Linked DNA regions of Homo sapiens. The protein of the gene in region 1 purifies or fractionates together with the protein of each later gene. This does not show direct contact. Each region holds a gene or a part of one and is shown in the gene's direction. Other genes may lie near its edges.

What was found.
Region 2: the proteins of FRK (region 1) and PDCD11 purify together in Homo sapiens (affinity purification with mass spectrometry; one large-scale study listed by BioGRID and IntAct). This does not show direct contact.
Region 3: the proteins of FRK (region 1) and NUP210 purify together in Homo sapiens (affinity purification with mass spectrometry; one large-scale study listed by BioGRID and IntAct). This does not show direct contact.
Region 4: the proteins of FRK (region 1) and PSMD5 purify together in Homo sapiens (affinity purification with mass spectrometry, with the first as the bait; one large-scale study listed by BioGRID). This does not show direct contact.
Region 5: the proteins of FRK (region 1) and DDX23 purify together in Homo sapiens (affinity purification with mass spectrometry; one large-scale study listed by BioGRID and IntAct). This does not show direct contact.

The regions. Positions count from the first base shown.
Region 1 is NC_000006.12:115,938,581-115,943,167, reverse strand, and holds part of FRK (tyrosine-protein kinase FRK), read left to right. Parts: coding exon 1-148; intron 149-542; coding exon 543-754; 3' UTR 755-4,587. UniProt on the Homo sapiens protein: Non-receptor tyrosine-protein kinase that negatively regulates cell proliferation.
Region 2 is NC_000010.11:103,423,504-103,428,090, forward strand, and holds part of PDCD11 (protein RRP5 homolog), read left to right. Parts: intron 1-39; coding exon 40-155; intron 156-1,480; coding exon 1,481-2,022; intron 2,023-3,825; coding exon 3,826-3,888; intron 3,889-4,587. UniProt on the Homo sapiens protein: Essential for the generation of mature 18S rRNA, specifically necessary for cleavages at sites A0, 1 and 2 of the 47S precursor. Directly interacts with U3 snoRNA. Involved in the biogenesis of rRNA.
Region 3 is NC_000003.12:13,409,866-13,414,452, reverse strand, and holds part of NUP210 (nuclear pore membrane glycoprotein 210 precursor), read left to right. Parts: intron 1-4,587. UniProt on the Homo sapiens protein: Nucleoporin essential for nuclear pore assembly and fusion, nuclear pore spacing, as well as structural integrity.
Region 4 is NC_000009.12:120,818,639-120,823,225, reverse strand, and holds part of PSMD5 (26S proteasome non-ATPase regulatory subunit 5), read left to right. Parts: intron 1-1,761; coding exon 1,762-1,871; intron 1,872-2,246; coding exon 2,247-2,387; intron 2,388-4,587. UniProt on the Homo sapiens protein: Acts as a chaperone during the assembly of the 26S proteasome, specifically of the base subcomplex of the PA700/19S regulatory complex (RC).
Region 5 is NC_000012.12:48,831,685-48,835,725, reverse strand, and holds part of DDX23 (probable ATP-dependent RNA helicase DDX23), read left to right. Parts: intron 1-1,228; coding exon 1,229-1,406; intron 1,407-2,206; coding exon 2,207-2,449; intron 2,450-3,152; coding exon 3,153-3,304; intron 3,305-3,539; coding exon 3,540-3,648; intron 3,649-4,041. UniProt on the Homo sapiens protein: Involved in pre-mRNA splicing and its phosphorylated form (by SRPK2) is required for spliceosomal B complex formation.

The DNA.
Region 1 (4,587 bases):
TATGAATCTAGACACGAAATAAAGCTGCCGGTGAAGTGGACTGCGCCCGAAGCCATTCGTAGTAATAAATTCAGCATTAAGTCCGATGTATGGTCATTTGGAATCCTTCTTTATGAAATCATTACTTATGGCAAAATGCCTTACAGTGGTGAGTAATTAATTCTGAAGTGGACCTTTCTGCTGCATGTCACTTACTTAGGTGTGATTTTAACTGCTTTGCCCAGACTTAGAGGGCAGAGTTATGAGGCTGACCATACCATACCTGCGGGAGCTTGATAGATAAAATTTGATGATGATAATTTGCATTAATGAGGTGGTTTATTGCTTCCCTCTCCTTTGCTAGTGAATTGCAGTCTTATAGACATCACTTGCTGCAGGATTTAGTTTAATCTGTGTAACCTGAGAAGGGGATGGCAGACCTTAAATCTTTGCCAAAGAAATTGACTTACTTAGTAACCTAGAGTATAAATGGCTATAAGTTTAAGACTCTGACCTTTAACTTGTTTTTTTTGTTGTTGTTGGTTTCGTTCTGTATTTTCAAGGTATGACAGGTGCCCAGGTAATCCAGATGTTGGCTCAAAACTATAGACTTCCGCAACCATCCAACTGTCCACAGCAATTTTACAACATCATGTTGGAGTGCTGGAATGCAGAGCCTAAGGAACGACCTACATTTGAGACACTGCGTTGGAAACTTGAAGACTATTTTGAAACAGACTCTTCATATTCAGATGCAAATAACTTCATAAGATGAACACTGGAGAAGAATATCAAATAATAAAGTAGCAAAACAAATTCAAATAATCCATTCCAAAATACAATGTTATCAACCAACTGCACAATCAGTTTATCCTGACATATTCAAGTGATAGGATAAAGTTGGCCATGTATTATGAAAAAGATTATTTGTGCATTTTATTGACTGGGCAACACTGCAGGACAGTCAAGGTGATATATAATTTCCTCACTGCCTGGTAAAATTAAGCACACTAAACCAAGTTATTTTTCTTTTTAAGAGATACTTACATTTCCATTTATTGTTTGAAATGTCGATCAAGAGAATCAACAGATGATAGTCCAATTTTTACTCAGTGACTGTTGTAGCATTTTCCTGTTTACTGATTAGAGTGGTTATTCATTATTCCTCAGATTGCTGAATCCCATCAGGCTGTTATTATGAAGGAATTTGATTGCTTTGCTGCACAGCAGGACCTGTGCTTTGAGATTTTTTTTTCTCTTTTAAAATATCCTGTAACTACAATGATGGTAAAGCCATGTTAAATGACTTGATTGTACTTGGAGTAATTGCACATTTTTTTCTATGCATAAAAAAATGATGCAGCTGTTGAGAAAACGAAGTCTTTTTCATTTTGCAGAAGGAAATGATGGAATTTTTCTGTACTTCAGTATGTGTCAACTGAGAGTCATATACATTAGTTTTAATCTCTTAATATTGAGAATCAGGTTGCAAAACGGATGAGTTATTATCTATGGAAATGTGAGAAATGTCTAATAGCCCATAAAGTCTGAGAAATAGGTATCAAAATAGTTTAGGAAAATGAGAGGAGAACAGTAGGATTGCTGTGGCCTAGACTTCTGAGTAATTAATAAAGAAAAAGAAGTACCCTTTGGCCTACAGATCAGAGTTTTATTTATTTTTTATTTTTTACTTTTTATTATAGTTTAAGTTCTGGGGTGCATGTGCAGAATGTGCAGTTTTGTTACATAGGTGTACAAGTGCCATGGTGGTTTGCTGCACCCATCAACCCGTCGTCTACATTAGGCATTTCTCCTAGTGCTGTTCCTCCCCTAGCCCTCCATCCCCTGACAGGCCCCAGTATGTGATGTTCCCCTCCTTGTGTCCATATGTTCTCATTGTTCAGCTCCCACTTATGAGTGAGAACATGCTGTGTTTGGTTTTTTGTTCTTGTGTTAGTTTGTTAAGAATGATGGTTTCCAGCTTTATCCATGTCCCTGTGAAGGACATGAACTCATCCTTTTTTATGGCTGCATAGTATTCCATAGTGTCTATGTGCCACATTTTCTTTATCCAGTCTATCGTTGATGGGCATTTGGGTTGGTTCCAAGTCTTTGCTATTGTGAATAGTGCCACAATAAACATGCATGTGTCTTTATAGCAGAATGATTTATAAGCCTTTAGGTACATACCCAGTAATGGGATCGCTGAGTCAAATGGTATTTCTAGTTCTAGATCCTTGAGGAATTGCTACACTGTCCTCCACAATGGTTGAACTAATTTATACTCCCACCAACAGAGTAAAAGTGTAAATGTGTTCCTATTTCTCCACATCCTCTTTGGCATCCAAAACAGCATCCTGTTGTTTCCTGACTTTTTAATGATCACCATTCTAACTGGTGTGAGATGGTATCTCATTGTGGTTTTGATTTGGATTTCTCTAATGATCAGATGATGAGCTTTTTTTCATATGTCTGTTGGCTGCATAAATATCTTCTTTTGAAATGTGTCTGTTCAAATCCTTCGCCCACTTTTTGATGGGGTTGTTTGTTTTTTTCTTTTAAATTTGTTTATGTTCCTTGTAGATTCTTGGTATTAGCCCTTTGTCAGATGGATAGCTTGCAAAAATTTTCTCCCATTCTGTAGGTTGCCTGTTCACTCTGATGATAGTTTCTTTTGCTGTCTAGAAGCTCTTTAGTTTAATTAGATCCCATTTCTCAATTTGGGCTTTTGTTGCCATTGGTTTTTGTGTTTTAGTCATGATGTCTTTTCCAATGCCTATGTCCTGAATGGTGTTGCCTAGGTTTTCTTCTAGGGTTTTTATGGTTTTAGGTCTTACATTTAAGTCTTTAATCCATCTTGAGTTAATTTTTGTATAGGTGTAAGGAAGGGGTCCAGTTTCAGTTTTCTGCATATGGCTAGCTAGTTTTCCCAACACCATTTATTAAATAGGGAATCCTTTCCCCATTGGTTGTTTTTGTAAGGTTTGTCAAAGATCAGATGGTTGTAGATGTGTGGTGTTATTTCTGAGGCCTCTGTTCTGTTCTGTTGGTCTAGATATCTGTTTTGGTACCACTACCATGCTGTTTTGTTTACTGTAGCCTTGTAGTATAGTTTGAAGTCAGGTAGCATGATGCCTATAACTTTGTTCTTTTTGCTTAGAATTGTCTTGGCTATGCGGGCTCTTTTTTGATTCCATATGAAGTTTAAAGTAGTTTTTTCCAATTCTGTGAAGAAAGTCAATGGTAGTTTGATGGGGATAGCACTGAATATATAAATTGCCTTGGGCAATATGGCCATTTTCACGATATTGATTCTTCCTATCCATGAGCATGGAATGTTTTTCCATTTATTTGTGTCCTCTCTTATTTCCTTGAGCAGTGGTTTGTAGTTCTCCTTGAAGAGGTCCTTTGCATCCCTTGTAAGTTGTAATCCTAGATATTTCATTCTCTTTGTAGCAATTGTGAATGGGAGTTCACTCATGATTTGGCTCTCTGTTTGTTATTGGTGTATAGGAATGTGTGTGATTTTTGCACATTGATTTTGTATCCTGAGACTTTGCTGAAGTTGCTTATCAGCTTAAGGAGATTTTGGGCTGAGATGGTGGGGTTCCCTATATATACAATTCATATCATCTGCAAACAGAGACAATTTTACTTCCTGTTTTCCTATTTGAATACCCTTTATTTCTTTCTCTTGCCTGATTGCCCTGGCCAGAACTTTCAATACTATTTTGAACAGGAGTGGTGAGAGGGGGCATCCTTGTCTTGTGCCAGCTTTCAAAGGGAATGCTTCCAGGTTTACCCATTCAGTATGATATTGGCTGTGGTTTTGTCTTAAATCTGTCATTTTTTTTGAGCTACGTTCCATCAATACCTAGTTTATTGAGAGTTTTTAGTATGAAGGGGTGTTGAATTTTATCAAATTTTCTGCATCTATTGAGATCATCATGTGGTTTTTGTCATTGGTTCTGTTTATGTGATGGATTGTGTTTATTGATTTGCGTATGTTGAACCAGCCTTGTGTCTCAGGGATGAAGCCAACTTGATCGTGGTGGATAAGCTTTTTGATGTGCTGCTGCACTCAGTTTGCCAGTATTTTATTGAGGATTTTTGCATGGATGTTCGTCAGGGATACTGGCCTGAAATTTTCTCTCTTTTTTTTTTTTTGTTGTGTCTCTGCCAGGTTTTGGTTTCAGGATGATGCTGGCCTCATAAAATGAGTTAGGGAGGAGTCCCTCTTTTCCTATTGTTTGGAATAGTTTCAGAAAGAATAGTACTAGCTTTGTACCTCTTTGTACCTCTGGTAGAATTCGGCTGTGAATCTATCTGGTCCTGGACTTTTTTTGGTTGGTAGGCTATTAATTACTGCCTCAATTTCAGAACTTGTTATTGGTCTATTTAGGGATTCATCTTCTTCCTGGTTTAGACTTGGGAGGGTGTATGTTTGCAGGAATTTACCCATTTCTTCTAGATTTTCTAGTTTATTTGCTTAGAGGTATTTATAGTAATCTCTGATGGTATTTTGTATTTCTGTGGGATCAGTGGTGATCTCCGCTTTATCATTTTTTATTGTGTCTATTTGATTCTGCTCTCTTTTCTTCTTTATTA
Region 2 (4,587 bases), on another chromosome or scaffold:
GTTCCAGAAGGATAATCACACTGTGGTTCTGCACTGCAGGGCAGGAGGTGGAATCTGGGCAGAAAAAGAAGGTTGTTATCTTAAATGTTGATCTTTTGAAGTTGGAAGTGCACGTTTCCCTTCACCAGGACTTGGTGAATAGAAAAGCTAGAAAGGTAAGCTTGCTCCTGACTTCCATTTCCATGGTTTCACATGATGTACCCTTCAACCCCACTCCAGTTCAGGGATTCCAACTCAGATGCCTGTAGCAAGGGTAGCCCTATGTCTGGATGGATCCAGGACACCCCCGGTTTAGACCTCTTGTCCTGGTGTGGTTCATAGTGCTGACTTCTGTTCTGGTTCCGGTGATAAGTTACATGGGCACTCCATCTTTAGGGCCAGACAGATAAATAGTGTGCAGGAGTGGAGCTGGCTGTGTGGGTAGGGAGTGGCTGGCCTGGGACTCTGACGAGCTGGAGAGTGCATGCCCAGCCCCTGTGGGGCTGAGACTGTTCAGTCCCGCCCAATTGTTGCCGGGTGGGAATCTGGGGCTACTGCTGCTAAATCTTTGATTTTTAAGAGAAGGCAGAATTTGGATTTTTATTTGAAATAAAAGCTGAAAATGTTGGAAACTTATTTTTTTAAAAACATCCCATGAGCCAAACAGCATGTCTGTGGGCAGTTCAGACCTCCAAGCTGTGCGTCCACACCCTCGCCTGCCTTGTCTTCTGGACACTTTTGTGTGACATAAGAATGGGTTTGAGGGAAAAATTATTATTTTTCTCTGGGTGATGAATATATTTGGTTATTGTCTAAAGCACTTATTAGGCACCTAGTTGCACAGAGTATGGTGCAGTGTAGATATAATCCTTAATTTCCAGTTGCTTACAGTATTAAGAGTTTAGGACAGAGAGAGAATGGAAAGCAATACTAACCTCTCATTCAGTTTTCTAGCAGGACCCTGTACCATTTTATCACCTAAGGGAAGCTTGGGCATATAAGAGCATGAGCACAATTTGGATTTTGAGGAAAGAGAGGCTAGGTGCCTTGCACACAATAAGCTCTCAGTAATGACTCTATTCATTGCTTGGGTTGAAGAGTGATTAATTGGGGGTGGGGGAGCTGCAGGACAGATTCAGGAACCACAGTGTCTCTAAGCTGAGAGAGCTGTTAGAGGTTGCAAGGCTGTGCATCAGAATTATCTCAATAACTTGTAAAATTCAGATTTACTAGATCTAGGATAGGGTCTTGCAATTTAAATTCAAAGCAAAGCAAAAACCAAGCCAAGGTAATTCAGAGGCAGCCCCATGAGTTTAGTGTACAGGAGAGGAAAGCTAGGTCCAGGGAGTGAAGGCTAGTCTGTTCCAGCTCAGACCAGCCTTGAGTTCCCTAGCCTTGGGACCCCAGAGGGTTTCCTCAGCCACACCCTGCCCAGTGGGGCCATGAGTGAGTGACCATGCTGTGTAAGGAAAGCAGGGATGGTGGCTTTTCTCTCTTCTAGCTGAGGAAAGGCAGCGAACACCAGGCGATTGTGCAGCACTTGGAGAAGTCCTTTGCCATTGCCTCCTTGGTAGAGACGGGCCACCTGGCAGCTTTCTCCCTGACCTCTCACCTCAACGACACCTTCCGCTTTGACTCAGAGAAATTGCAGGTGGGACAGGGTGTCTCCCTAACCCTCAAGACCACAGAACCAGGAGTGACTGGCCTTCTTTTGGCTGTGGAGGGGCCGGCTGCCAAGAGGACCATGAGGCCGACCCAGAAGGACTCTGAGACAGTTGATGAGGATGAAGAAGTGGATCCAGCTCTGACTGTAGGGACCATAAAGAAGCACACCCTCTCCATCGGGGACATGGTCACAGGGACTGTCAAGTCCATTAAGCCTACCCATGTGGTTGTGACTCTGGAAGATGGCATTATTGGCTGTATCCATGCCTCCCACATTCTAGATGATGTTCCAGAGGGCACCTCTCCTACTACCAAGCTGAAGGTTGGGAAGACGGTCACTGCCCGAGTGATTGGCGGGCGAGACATGAAGACATTCAAGTATGGAGGCTCTGGGGGTGGGCTGGCTTCGAGGGAGATTGTTGTTGTTGTGGGAGGACTGGGAAAGTAGGTGGGCTCCAAAAAGTTGCATGTAAGTCAGATTCTCTTTTAGTTAACAAAAGGCATTCACCAAAGAATTATTTTGCAAGATTCTTTTTTTTTTCTTTTTTTTGAGACGGAGTCTCACTCTGTTGCCCAGGCTGAAGTGCAGTGGTGTGATCTCGCCTCACTGCAAGCTCTGCCTCCTGGGTTCACACCCTTCTCCTGCCTCAGCCTCCCAAGTAGCTGGGACTACAGGCACCCACCACCACGCCCGGCTAACTTTTTGTGTTTTTAATAGAGATGGGGTTTCACTGTGTTAGCCAGGATGGTCTCAATCTCCTGACCTTGTGATTTGCTCACCTCCACCTCCCAAAGTGCTGGGATTACAGTGCATTATTCTTTTTAAAAATATGGAATATATGGTGTGGTTGTTAAGAACATGGGTTTGGAGTCAGACCCGGGTTTGAATTCTAGATTAACTGTGACCATGTGGCAGTAGCTACTTAAGTCCAAATTTTATTTTCTTAATTTGTAACGTGAGAGTCATGGTAGCGACTACTTTGTAGGGCCATGGTGAAGACTGAAAGAGAGAACGTGTAGTCTGTTCTTTGCCTAGTGGGTTGCTGGCCTCAGTTACTGCGCTGTATACATCTGCAGTTGTCATTCTCCACCTCCCACTTTAATTATCCTCATTTACTTTAAATCTAGTGCCACATGTTACTGTAGCAGAAATTCTTGCTATAACAAGAACAGCAAAAAAAGAATTCAAAGTCTGGCCAATAATTTGCATATTAATTTCAGTAGCTAACTGTGGGGTCTTCAGTAAGTCAATTATCCTCTAAATAAAGACCTCAGTTTCCTTATTTTTAGAATGAAAGAATTGGAGTATATAGACTGTAAGGAAAATTGTTTTCAGGATCTGATATGACAATCCTAAAAGATCAGGCCAGGCACGGTGGCTCACGCCTGTAATTCCAGCACTTTTGGGAGGCTGAGGTGGGTGGATCACCTGAGATCAGGAGTTCAAGACTAGCCTGGCCAACATGGTGAAACCCCGTCTACTGAAAAAACAAAAATTAGCCGGGCACAGTGCCTGTAGTCCCAGCTACTCGGGAAGCTGAGGCAGGAGAATCACTTGAACTCAGGAGGCAGAGGTTGCAGTGAGCTGAGATTGTGCCATTGCACTCTAGCCTGGGCAAGAGAGTGAGACTCCGTTTCAAAAAAAAAAAAAAAATCAGGTGAGGCTGGGTGTAGTGGCTGAACCCTGTAATCCCAGCACTTTGGGACGATGAGGGAGGTGGAAAACCTGAGCCCAGGAGTTCAAGACCTGCCTGGGCAACATGGTGAGACCCCATCTCTACAAAAAAAAAAATAAATAAATAAAAATAAAAATTAGCTGGGCATGGTGGCATACACCTATAGTCCCAGCTACTTGGGAGGCTGAGCTGGGAGGATTGCTTGAGCCCAGGAGATTGAGGCTACAGTGAGCCATGATTGCGCCACTGCATTCCAGCTTGGGTGACAGAGTGAGACCTTGTCCCAGAAAAAAAAAAAATTCAGATGAGCCTGCTCCTTACTAATAACTGCAAAGGTTGGGAATGGAAACCTTCAGCCTGACACATCTGTCTTCAGTGGTGGTGTGACAGTGGAACAGGGTGCTTTTGTGAGCTTGGTTTGGTGGAGAGTAGGGAGAAATCCTGACCTACAGATTACTGTGTTACAGAGATGAAGAGAAATGATTCAGCTTATTTGTTTCTCCAGGTATCTCCCAATAAGTCACCCCAGATTCGTTCGAACCATCCCGGAGCTGAGTGTTCGGCCAAGGTGAGGGGGACATTAGCAGCACTGTCTTACGGAAAGAGCACTGGGCTTTGGAATTAGGAATCCCGAATTCGAATCTTGATTTTACCAGTGTTAGGATTGATTTTTGCCTTTCTCTGTCCAAGTTTTCTTGTTTCTCTAGTGGGGATATTTGGTTCTCCTAGGGCTGGAGGGATCATATGAAAATTAATGCAAAAGCTGTGTACAGGTTTTAAGTATCAATTTAAAGCCTGGTTTCAGTTCTGTTTGTCAGCATGTCACAAAAAGAAACATTTTTGCTCTCAACCCAATTTTCTATAACTCAGTAATTCCCTAAATAAGCAACATGTATCCAAGAATACCTGTTATTTCAACCTAGACGACTGTGTGGTGGGCTGGAGGCTGAATAGGAATTTCAGGTCATGGTGGGGTAGATTCTGAAGAGAAGGGTGTTCCATGAGATACTCTGTGGGGAGGAGAACGAGGAGTTCTCTAAAAGAACCCAGCCTCTCAGATTGATAGACCCTTAGTGAATGAAGCTAGGTGTGTATGACCTTAATTAAGAAAGGCTCTGTGGCTCAGTCCTGGGATCCAGCCAGGTTGTAAATCTTAATGCACCTAGAGATTTACAGAACGGTCTCCAAAGTAACTTCCAGAGCCAGGCACAGTGGCTCACGCCTGTAATCCCAGCACTTTTGGAGGCTGAGGCAGATGAATCACTTC
Region 3 (4,587 bases), on another chromosome or scaffold:
TGTAGCTGTGGCCCCTGCAGGGCTGGACCGGGCCTTGCTCAACTCCCTTCACCAGGCCCGCAGCAGGGAAGTGCCAGGAAGTGTCTGTGGACCTGGGTTGACTTGGGCCTTGGGTGATTTTCTTCCTGCTTCCTTTGTGGGTCCCCCACTCTGCCTGAGCTCTGTCAGCCCCACGAGGTGGCTTCCGCTCTGTAGACACTGCCTTTGGGCACCGTTAGGGGCTGGACCCCGCGGGTGGATGGGAGGTGGCGTGTGTCATCCACCACCCTCACCCATCCTTGTTCTTTGTGCAACTCTCACTTCTCTTTTCTTTTCACTGTTGCTTTCTGGCCTGACCCAGGTCCCTGAGTTCCCCTATGGCCTGCCTGCCTCCTGTTCCTGTGTTGTGAAGAGTGGGGAGCACCCCCTCAAAAGCAGTGCCTGCCAGACGCCAGCACATTCTGTGTGCCAGTGGGGCCTCATGCGACAGTGGGAATGAGAAAAATTCACTCTTTCAAAACTCACTGTCAGTCCTTTAATTTTCCTCAAAATAAAAGTTTTCTTCTGGTGTCTGTATGTGGTTTACATATTTTTTTATTTTAAATTGTGGTAAAATATATATAACATATAATCGACCTCCTTAACCATTTTTAGGTGTAGAGTTCTGTGGCATGAAGTACGTTCACAATTGTTGTGCAGCCACCTCCACCATCCACCTTCAGAACTCTTTCATCTTCCCAAATGGACACTCTGTACCCATTAAATAGCAACTCCCTATTTTCTCCTGCTCGGGCCTTGGCCAACACCATCTTTTCATTGTACTCTTTGATGTTTGCCTGTCTCCCAAGAGAACAGGCAGACGCCTAGAGTCTTTGCAGGTAGCAGCTTCCCCCCAGGACTTACTGACACTGCTTTGAGTCATCTGGATGGATGACAAATGCTGTGATATTCTTATTTACACTAGTGTGTAAGGTTTCCTTTTTTGTTTGTTTGTTTTTTTTTTTGAGACAGAGTCTTGCTCTGTCGCCCAGGCTGGAGTGCAGTGGTGCGATCTTGGCTCACTGCAAGCTCCGCCTCCCGGGTTCATGCCATTCTCCTGCCTCAGCCTCCCATGTACCTGGGACTACAGGCGCCTGCCACCACGCCCGGCTAACTTTTTTTTGTATTTTTAGTAGAGATGGGGTTTCACCATGTTAGCCAGGATGGTCTCGATCTCCTGACCTCGTGATCCGCCCGTCTCGGCCTCCCAAAGTGCTGGGATTACAGGTGTGAGCCACCGCGCCCGGCCTCAAGCAATTCTTCTGCCTCATCCTCCTGAGTAGCTGGGGCTACCGGCATGTGCCAACACGCCTGGCTAATTTTAGTATTTTTAGTAGAGACGGGGTTTCACCATATTGGCCAGGCTAGTCTCGAACTCCTGACCTCGTGATCTGCCTGCCTCGGCCTCCCAAAGTGCTGGGATTACAGGCGTGAGCTACTGTGCCTGGCTTTTTTTCTTTTTTTGAGACAGAGTCTTGCTCTGTTGATCAGGTTGGAGTGCAGTGGCCTGATCTCGGCTCACTGCAAGCTCCGCCTCCTGGGTTCACGCCATTCTCCTGCCTCAGCCTCCTAAGTAGCTGGGACTACAGGTGCCCGCCACCATGCCCAGCTAATTTTTTGTATTTTTAGTAGAGACGGGGTTTCACCATGTTAGCCAGGATGGTCTTGCTCTCCTGACCTCATGATCCACCTGCCTCAGCCTCCCTTTTTTTTTTTTAATTGAGATGGAGTCTTGCTGTATTGCCTGGGCTGGAGTACAGTGGCAAGATCTTGGCTCACAGCAACCTCTGCTGCCCAGGTTCAAGCGATTCTCCTGCCTCAGCCTCCTGAGTAGCTGAGATTACAGGCATCCACCACCATGCCCGGCTAATTTTTGTGTTTTTAGTAGAAACGGGATTTCGCCATGTTGGCCAGGCTGGTCTCGAACTCCCGACCTCAGGTGATCAGCCCTCCTCTGCCTCCCAAAGTGCTGGGATTACAGGTGTGAGCCACCACACCTGGCCAAGGTTTCCTTTTAAAGTAATTTTTTAGTAAAGAAGAATCCATTTAATACAATAATAAGAAAAGGGCCGAGCATGGTGGCTCATGCCTATAATCCCAGCACTTTGGGAGGTTGAGGCAGGAGGATCGCTTAAGCTCAGGAGTTTAAGACCAGCCTGGGCAACATAGCGAAACCCTGTCTCTACTAAAAAAAAAAAAAAAAGAAAAGGAAAATAAAGCTGGGTGTGGCACAGGCACCTGTGGTCCCAGCTACTCCTGAGGCTGAGGCAGGAGGATTGCTTAAACCCAGAAGGTCAAGGCTGCAGTGATCCATGATTGTACCACTCTACTCCAGCCTGGGCAACAGAGTGAGAGCCTGTCTATTAAAAAAACTAGGCCGGGTGCAGTGGCTGGCCAGATGCAGTGGCTCATGCCTGTAATCCCAGCACTTTGGGAGGCCGAGGAGGGCGGATCACCTGAGGTCAGGAGTTCGAGCCCAGCCTGGCCAATATGGTGAAACCCCATCTCTACTAAAAATACAAAAAAAATAGCTGGGCGTGGTGCTGGGCGCTTATAATGCCAGCTACCTGGGAGGCTGAGGCAGGAGAATTGCTTGAACCCGGGAGGCGGAGGTGGCAGTGAGCTGAGATTGCATCACTGCACTCCAGCCTGGGTGATAAGAGTGAAACTGTCTCAAATAAATAAATAAGTAAATAAACGAATACAAGTCATACCTGTATGTGACTGGGCTAGGGCAGGTGTCCAACCAAGAGGAGCCTGATGGTGGGGAGGGGCCGTCGGCAGGTGCAGGTGTCTAGGCAACTGCCCTTCCTGGCCACAGCCTGCAGGTCCAGAGGCAGGGGCTTCCAGTGTTGCAGAGGAGATGTGGGGGTGGTGACAGGGGGGATGGACAGAGGGAGCCAAAATGAAAGAACCAATTTTTCTGTTAATCCCTTTGCATACTATGCCCCCACTTAATCCTAAAAATGAACAATAAACAAAACTCCTTTGGTAAGAATGACTGCACTGTACAAATGAGGAGCCTGGGTCCAAGAGCCTCACAGCTGGTTAGTGGCAGAGCTGTGTCCAAAACCAGCCTCAGATCCAGAACCACACTCACTCTCAGATGCCTGGGGAAATGCGCCACCCTTCTCAGATGATTGTTGGTTTACCCAGTTTCCTTCAGCTGGATTTTAAAACTTCAGTAGTACTTTTATTTTTCTGAGACAGATTCTTGCTCTATCACCCAGGCTGCAGTGCAGTGGCACAATTATAGCTCACTATAACCTCAAACTCCTGGGCTCAAGTGATCCTCCCTCCTCAGCCTTTAGAGTAGTTGGGACTATAGATGTGAGCCACCACGCCCAGCTAATTTTTAAAATTTTTATTTATTATTATTATTTTTTAGAGACTCACTATTGCACAGGTTAGTTTCAAACTACTGGCCTCAAGCAATCCTCCTACCTTGGCCTCCCAAAGTGCTGGGACTAAAGGTGCATGCCACCACACCTGGCTAATTTTTTTTTTTTTTTTTTTTGAGACAGAGTCTTGCTCTGTCACCCAGGCTGGAGTGCAGTGGTGCCATTTCAGCTCACTGCCAGCTCCGCCTCCTGGGTTCACACCATTCTCCTGCCTCAGCCTCCCAAGTAGCTGGGACTACAGGCGTCTGCCACCACGCCCGGCTAATTTTTTGTATTTTTTAATGGAGACGGGGTTTCACCATGTTAGCCGGGATGGTCTCGATCTCCTGACCTCGTGATCCACCCGCCTCGGCCTCCCAAAGTGCTGGGATTACAGGTGTGAGCCACCGTGCCCGGCCTTTTTGTTTTTTTTTTTAGAAATGGGGTCTCACTGTTGCTTAGTCTGGTCTCAAACTCCTGGTCTCAAGTGATCCTCCTACCTTGGCCTCCCAAAGTGTTAGGGTTACAGGCATAAGCCACCATGCCTGGCCCAGTGGTGCTTTTAAAAATCAGTATTGGCCAGGCACAGTGGCTCACGCCTGTAATCCCAGCACTTTGGGAGGCCAAGGTGGGCGGATCACCTGAGGTCAGGAGTTTGAGACCAGCCTGACCAATATGGAGAAACCTCATTTCTGCTAAAAATACAAAATTAGCTGGGTATGGTGCTACATGCCTTTTCCTAGCTCCTCGGGAGGCTGAGGCAGGAGAATCACTTGAACCTGGGAGGTGGAGGCTGCGGTGAGCCGAGATTGTCTCATTGCACTCCAGCCTGGGCAACAAGAGTGAAACTCTGTCTCAAAAAGAAAAAGAAAAAGGAAAAAAAAATCAGTAATAGCTGGGCACAGTGGCTCACACCTGTAATCCTAGCACTTTGGGAGGCCAAGGCAGGCAGAATGCCTGAGCTCAGGATTTAGAGACCAGCCTGGGCAACACGGTGAAACCGTTTCTACTAAAATACAAAAAAAAAAAAAAAAATTAGCTGGGTGACGTGCTAAAAATTACAGGTGGCGTGCACCTGTAGTCCCAGCTGCTCGGGAGGCTGAGGCAGGAGAATTGCTTGAATCCAAGAGGCAGAGGTTGCAGCGAGCCTAGATCGTACCACTGCACTCCAGCCTGGGTGACAGAACGA
Region 4 (4,587 bases), on another chromosome or scaffold:
AAAAAAAAAAAGAAAGAAAGAAAGATACTTTTATGGAACATCCATGAGGATCAACAGCACAACAAATTTTACACACAAAATAATATGCAGCCCAATTATTAAAATTCTTGAGACACATATGTTGAAAATTATCTCACCTGTAATCCCAGCACTTCAGGAGGCCAAGGCGGGAGGATCGTTTGAGCCCAGGAATTCAAGACCAGCTTCGTCAACAACAACAACAAAAAAAATTAGCCAGCTGTGGTGGTGCATGCCTATAGTCCCAGCCACTCGGGAGGCTGAGGTGGGAGAATCATTTGAGCCCAGGAGGTGAAGGCTGTAGTGAGCCTTGATCACTCAGTTGCACTGCAGCCTAGGTGACAGAGTGAGACCCCATCTCAAAAAAAAAATTTAAAAAGAGGCCAGGCGAGGTGGCTCATGCCTGTAATCCCAACACTTTGGGAGGCCAAGGTGGGTAGATTACCTGAGGTCAAGAGTTCGAGACCAGCCTGGCCAACATGGTCTCTACTAAAAATACAAAAATTAGCTAGGTGTGATGGCAGGCGCCTGTAATCCCAGCTACTCGGGAGGTTGAGGCAGGAGAATCGCTTGAACCTGGGCCGTGAGTCGAGATTGCGCCATTGCACTCCAGCCTGGGTGACACAGCAAGACTCCATCTCAAAAAAATAAAAATTAGAAAATAGAAAAAGAAAAAAAGAAAATTAATACGCTGTTGTGTATCACAGCTAATATTTTTGTTATATGTCGTTTTCTAAGTGCTTTTACCTATGACAATCGTTTTACAGTCCTGCAAAGAACATACATTGTCATTTTCATTTTCCAGATAAGGTAGATGAAACTTAGAGGAGTTAAGAAAATTTCTAAGGTCATACAAATTATGGCAGCTGCTACTCAAGTCCAGGTCCTTTGATTCCAGTTTTATAACTTTGCCTTATATATGCTGTGTTGCGTGTAATTATGTGTTCTAGGCCTGTCACTGGTTCTCTGACTACATGCTTATTTTTGTATTGGTTTAGGTTGGTAGAGGTCATAGTGTATGAGAGCATACTTTAAAAAAATCTCATTTTTCACTTCATATCCATTAGGATGGCTATTACTTTAAAAAAAAACCCATAAAATAATAAGTGTTAGGATGTGGAGAAATTGTAACCCTTGTACATTTTATATTTCCTTCATCCAGCAGCTCCACTTTCAGGTATATACCAAAAAAAATTGAAAGCAGAGACTCAAACAAATGTTTGTACAGTCATGTTCATAGCAGCGTTATTCACAATAACCAAAAAAAGGTGCAAGCAACCCAATGTTCATTGATAGATGAATCAATAAACAAAATGTGGTATATACATACAATTGAATATTACTCAGCCTTTAAAAAGAATGAGATTCTGGCACATGCTACAGCATGGAGGAAGCCTGCGCCACTGATAACATTATGCTAAGTGAAGTAAGCCAAACACATAAGGACAGATATTGTATGATTCCACTTAGATGAGATGCCTAAAAGAGTCCAGTTCACAGGAGGTAGAATAGTGGTTGGCAGGGGATGAGGGTAGAGAAGAAAGGGAATTATTGTTTGATGGATACAGAGTTTCAGTTTGGGTTGATGAAAAAGTTCTAGAGATGGATGGTTATGATGGTTGCCCAACAGTGTGAATGTACTTAATAGCACTGAACTATACACTAAAAATGGTTAAAATGGTAAATTTTATGTTGTGTATATTTTACCATAATAAAGAAGAATCTCACTGTTATCCTTCAAAGGAACTCGCTTTGAACGCTTGCTTATGAGAATAGGACATCAATCAAAGAATGCCCCAGTGGAGCTAAAAATTAGATGTTTGGATGCAATTTCATCTCTTCTGTACTTACCAGTAAGTAGGTAGGGAAATAATGAAGGACAGTGGGATATGTTTGGGAGAATAAATCTGTATGAATCAACATGATAAATGTGATGAAGTAAATACAAGAAGATAACCCTCATTATATGACTAGTGACATTTTTAATTTAAAATGGAATCATAGAGTGTTAGAACTGAAGAGACTCTAGAGACTGCTTAATCAACCACATTCAAAGAAAACTGGGAAAGGTCTGGGCTGGATTTGAGAAAGAGTCCTCCAGACTTAGCCAGTTTCACACAACAAATTAATGACAGAGTGCCATCAGCACTCAGGTGTCTGACTTCTAAATAAGTGCTTTTCTCCAGATCAGTTAACTTTTGATGAGATTTTCCTTTTCTTTCCTGTAGCCTGAGCAGCAGACTGATGACCTTCTGAGGATGACAGAATCCTGGTTTTCTTCTTTATCTCGGGATCCACTGGAGCTCTTCCGTGGCATTAGTAGTCAGCCCTTCCCTGAACTACACTGTGCTGCCTTAAAAGTGTTTACGGTAGGTATTCACTTCCATAGGTCCTTCTGGGACCCTGCCAGCTCAACACTTGAGTACTTAACAGTGAGCCAGAGCCTGTGCCATCTCTGGGGATGCACAAGTGCATAGTATAGTTTCTACCTTCTGCTACCTTAGAGACTAAGTAAGGAGACAGATGTGTAAACAGATTGTTTCAGTAAAAGATATTAGGTGCTGTTTGAGGTTTGAACAGGATGCTATGGGATCACACAGTTAATTCCAGACTTTTTATCTGCCATCCTCTATTAACCTAGCCCTGGTCTTCCTAATCCTTATTTCCCGTGCAGAAAATAAGGCTTCTGGCACCTAATGCTCCAGTGGTACCAAACTGTTTGTTTTGTGTCTCTGGACCTTTGCTGGGGTCTCCGTATCTAACACTCTTCCTTAACTTTGCTTCTTAACCTCTTACTCACTCGTCAAGGACTAACTCCTTGTCTTCAGCACACTTTGCCCAGATTGACAAGGTTGAGTTAAACAATGTTGGTTCTCATATGTTGCATTTATTTATTCAGCAAATATTTGTTGAGTTTCCGTTTTTGCTCAGTGAAGGGCATACAACAGTGAAGAAAATATATAAAGACCTTCCTTTCATGTAGTTTCCTGTCTATTGAAGGAGCCAGGCAGTAAATATAATTGTACAGTTACTTATATAATTACAGCTGTGGTAAGGATTATACCTTTGTGTTCTATTTGTTATATTATTTTGCAAATGTTTATTTATCGACTTGTCTTACCTATTAAGTAGAGTTGGCTGAGAGCAGGAAGCATATCTGATTTATCTTTGTAGCCCCAGCATAGCAAGATAGTAATCGCTTTAGTAATCATATCAATAATGGGATCTCAGACAGCATACATGGCCTAGACTGGGAGGGAATAAGGAAAATGGCAGGGACAAAAGAGGGAAGGCTTCCTGAGGATGCGATACAGGATCTGGGTCTTGAAGGATACAGGTATTCCTATAATCTTCAGAAACATTTTTTTTTTTGAGACAGAGTCTCGCTCTGTCGCCCAGGCTGGAATGCAGTGGCGTGATCTTGGCTCACTGCAAGCACCACCTCCCGGGTTCACGCCATTCTCCTGCCTCAGCCTCCCGAGCAGCTAGCCTACGGGCGCCCACCACCATGCCCGACTAATTTCTTTTTGTATTTCTAGTAGAGACGGGGTTTCACTGTGTTAGCCAGGATGGTCTCGATCTCCTGACCTTGTGATCCGCCCGCCTCGGCCTCCCAGAGTGCTGGGATTACAGGCGTGAGCCACCGCGCCTAGCCAGAAACATTTCTTTAAGACTGCTTCACCCTTGTAAATGGTCATTGTATGAGATGGCCATTTTGGATCCTGCTTAGTATTTTCATTATTAGTTTATTTTGGTTTTGCTCTTCTACCTTATCCTGTGCTTAGCTGGTTCCATTGTAGAAATAATTTTCTATTTACTGGTTGGGATAACTATTTTTATTTCTGCCTACTTTCATGCTTGGTTGTGAAGCAGGCCAAAGTTTCTCAAACATTAATCTTAGGAATCTTATTAAAATGTAGATTCTAATTCAGTAGTTGTGGGGCAGAGCCTGGGATCCTGAAAGTCTAACAAGCTCGCAGGTGTTGCTGATGCTACTTGTCTGTGGAACACATTTTGAGAGGAAAAAACTAGGCCATAAACTTGTTACTTCTTTTTCATTAAAACGTAATAGGTTTTGAAAAACTTAATCTTAAAATTTGGAAAAGACTTAGAAGTAGAATTTTTTAAAATCACAGAAAGTTCTACCTTTTGGTGTATTTCCTTTTAGTTTTTGTATTAGTGTGTGTTTATTTTTGGTGAAATATTTCAAATATAGTTGTATCTTGCTACCTCTGCCCAGTCCTATTCCCCTTCCTCTGTTCTTAGATAAAATCACTATCACAAAGTCAGGGCCCATAAATGATTTCATATTTCTACTACATATTGTGTGTATCCTTAAATAAAACACAGTATTTTAGATATTCATAAACTTTGTAAGTGGTATCATGCTGTTTGTATCATTCCATTAGGTTGGTGCAAAAGTAATTGCAGTTTTTGCTTTTTTTTTTTTTCTCTTCAATGTTACGTTTTTTTAAAATTTGTCTATGTTAAAAGAGGCAGTTAGAAAGTTGGTATTTCATTGAATAGCCACAATATATCATTCTCCTATAAATGAAGATTTAGATAGTA
Region 5 (4,041 bases), on another chromosome or scaffold:
TTTGTTTTGTTTTTTGAGACGGAGTTTCGCTCTTGTTGCCCAGGCTGGAGTGCAATGGCGCAATCTCGGCTCACTGCAACCTCCTCCTCCCAGGTTCAAGTGATTCTCCTCCCTCAGCCTCCCAAGTAGCTGGGATTATAGGTGCCCGTCACCATGCCCGGCTAATTTTTTTGTATTTTTAGTAGAGACGGGGTCTCAATGTTGGTCAGGCTGGTCTCTAACTCCTGACCTCAAGTGATCTGCCTGCCTCAGCCTCCCAAAGTGTTGGAATTACAGGCGTGAGCCAGTGTGCCTGTCCTTAATTTTTACATTTTTAGTAGAGATGAGGTTTCACCATGTTGGCCAGGCTGGTCTCAAACTCCCGATCTCAACTGATCTGCCTGCCTTGGCCTCCCAAAGTGCTGGGATTACAGGCGTGAACCACTGCACCTGGCTGAATCTCTGATTTTTATGTATTTATTATTTATTTATTTATTTATTTTTTGAGATGGAGTCTCGCTCTATTGTCTAGGCTGGAGTGCAGTGGTGTGATCTTGGCTTACAGCAACCGTTGCCTCCCAGGCTCATATCCTCCTACCTCAGCCTCCCAAGTAGCTGGGATTACAGGTGTGTTCGAACATGCCCAGCTAATTTTTGTATTTTTTGTAGAAACAGGGTTTTACCATGTTGCCTAGACTGGTCTCAAACTCCTGGGCTCAAGTGATTCACTCACCTCAGCCTCCGAAAGTGCTCGGATTATAGGCTTGTGCCACCTTGCCTGGCCTCTGGACTTATTTTTATTTTTATTTTTTTTGGAGACAGAGTGTCTCTGTCACCCAGGCTGGAGTGCAGTGGCGTGATCTCAGCTCACTGCAACCTCTGTCTCCTGGGTTCAAGCGATTCTTCTGCCTCAGCCTCCCGAGTAGCTGGTATTACAGGCGCCGGCCACCACGCCTGGCTAATTTTTGTATTTTTATTAGAGGCAGGGTTTCACCATGTTGGCCAGGCTGGTCTCAAACTCCTGACTTCAGGTGATCCGCCTGCCTCAGCCTCCCAAAGTTCTGGGATTACAGACATGAGCCACCATGCCCAGCCCTGGCCTCTGATTTTTAAGTGAGATCATTGCATTCTTTTCTCATCATCCTCCCCATTCCCATTGCTCCCCGTAAGAGTGACTTTGTCTTGCTCTGGCTTGTGGTTGGATAAGAACCAAAGCTCACGAAGCTGTGGGGCACCCTGTTTACCACAGGATCGAAGAGTCAGACCAAGGCCCTTATGCCATCATCCTGGCTCCCACCCGTGAGTTGGCTCAACAGATTGAGGAAGAGACCATCAAGTTTGGGAAACCGCTAGGTATCCGCACTGTGGCTGTCATTGGTGGCATCTCCAGAGAAGACCAGGGCTTCAGGCTGCGCATGGGTTGTGAGGTTTGTTTTTCTATCTAGCAGCCAGCCTGCTGTCTGGGAAGGCTATCTTGGGGCTTTGTTTCTAGTTTCTGGAATATATGTGCAGTAGTATGAAGAAAGGAGCTGGTTTATATATATGTGCTATTTATTGAGAACTTATGCACCAGGGTTTATATCACAAATAGTATATATCATATATATTAGCTCATTAATTCTCACAATAATGTATGAGAGTGGTATTTCCTTGTTATAGATCAAGCTGAGGTTCAGGTTAATAACTGCCTGAAGTCACAAACAGCTGGCAATGGGCAGAGCTGAGACTCATATCCATAGCCTGTGCTTTTAGTTACTCTTTACTCTGCCAGACCAAATCTTTGACTTTGTGCATTGCCTTCATCTCAGGAAAGTGGAGGAGAGCTCTTTATGAGAAGTCTGCTGTAGAAATTTAGTCTTTTTACAATTTTTTAAAAAAATTTAGTCTTTATACAACCCCCTTCATAGTACCCCTTAGTCTCTCCCATCTAAGAAGTTCCTTCTTCAGGATCTGAAATGATTTGCCAAAAAAAAAAAAGTTTCTACTGATTTTGCCTCCTCTGTCTAATCCTTGCACCTTACTCAGAGACCTCATTCATTCCTGAGAAAATCCAGGCAACAAGTGATTTCATGCCAGTTTGCAGGAGCCTTTACTGCTAAACATAACCAGAGGTTGGGGTCCAAGTTCCTCAGCATTGGAGGTCTGTCACCCAAGTGGGTGGATAGTTCACAGGAAAGAAAAGAAGGGGCACCTGCTGGGCTATAAATGATTATACTGTACTCCTCAGATTGTGATTGCTACCCCTGGGCGTTTGATTGATGTGCTGGAGAACCGCTACCTGGTGCTGAGCCGCTGTACCTATGTGGTTCTGGATGAGGCAGATAGGATGATTGACATGGGCTTTGAGCCAGATGTCCAGAAGATCCTGGAGCACATGCCTGTCAGCAACCAGAAGCCAGACACGGATGAGGCTGAGGACCCTGAGAAGATGCTGGCCAACTTTGAGTCGGGAAAACATAAGTACCGCCAAGTAAGGCTGCTTCCCTGGGCTGGGAAAAGTTGGACAGGCCAAGGCGGGTGGATCACTTGAGCTCAGGAGTTTGAGACCAGCCTGGGCAACATGGCGAAACTCCGTCTCTACAAAAATTTAAAAAATTAGCTGGGCATTGGTGGTGCACACCTGTGGTGCCAGCCACTCAGGAGGCTGAGGTGGGAGGACCTCTTAAGCCTGGGAGGCAGTGGTCGCAGTGAGCTGAGGTCGTGCCACTACTCCATTCCATCCTGGGCAACAGAGTGAGGCCCTGTCTCAAAAAAAAAGAAAAGTTGTACAAGGTTGCCAACCTCCTTTTGGGCCTTTCTTGCCTTAGGTGGGCTCAGAGTACATGTTTCTAGAATGAAGTGTGCCTAGGTACAGTCCTCTGACAGTCCTAAGGGTGGAGCCATTTAGCTTAGCCCTGGAAAAACGATTCCAAAGACTCATGCTGCTACCGGGACCACAGGTGCTAGCAAATGCTCTCAATCCTTCCTGTCATCATAAGATGGAAAGTGCCTTGATGAGCAGGTACTCAGGAAGGATGGGAATTCAGAGGACACTATTTTCTAAGGTGGTGGCTATCAAAGCCTATACTGTGGCCCATTTTAGATTCTTTAGTCTGGGCTGACCTGCCTTCGGTGACAGTGGGATATATGATTATTCCTGCCTGGGTGCAGGGCTGAGCCTCCTGTTTTCGTAGACAGTCATGTTCACGGCCACCATGCCCCCAGCGGTGGAGCGTCTGGCCAGGAGCTATCTTCGGCGACCTGCTGTGGTGTACATTGGCTCCGCAGGCAAGCCCCATGAGCGTGTGGAACAGAAGGTCTTCCTCATGTCAGAGTCAGAAAAGAGGTATGAGGGCAGCTGAGCCAGGGGAAACAGGGTGGAGAATAAAATGGCTCTGAGAACTTTTTTAGTGCAGGTGCAGGGCAGGGCAATTGCTCTGCTGTGTTGAAGAGCTGCTGTTTTCTTGGGCAGAATGTCATGGGCATTAAAGACCCTGAAAGTAGTGTTCATAGATGAGGGTTGGGCATTTCACTTGGAGTGGGAGGTATTATGCATCTTGTTTTTCTCCTCTTCCTTCCAGGAAAAAGCTGCTGGCAATCTTGGAGCAAGGCTTTGACCCACCCATCATTATTTTTGTCAACCAGAAGAAGGGCTGCGACGTGTTGGCCAAATCCCTGGAGAAGATGGGGGTGTGTCTGGCAGGGGAGAACAAAGTCTAGCCTCTGTGGCACTGCTTTCTGAATCTAGCAGGGCCCCCTAGGCTCTTCCTTTCAAGTCTCACCCTTTCTTTAGCCTGTCCAGCAATCAACAAGTTAGGACCAGGGTGAAGGGTGGTTTGAGGGAATAAAGAGAATGGAATCAATTGCTGGGACCCCCTGTCTGCTGCAGTAATGCCAGCCAAAGCTGCCTTGGGTCTTCATCCTGGTGAGGTGGAGCCAGGGAAAGGTTTGAGACCCATATCCTGGCAGTCTGAGGATGTAGAAAAGAGTAGGTGAAAACTGCTTAGGTACGTTGAGAGGAGGTGATATGGTCAGAAGGGAGCTGATAATCAGTGTCCTTTACTCCTGTCACTGGTGCTTGAG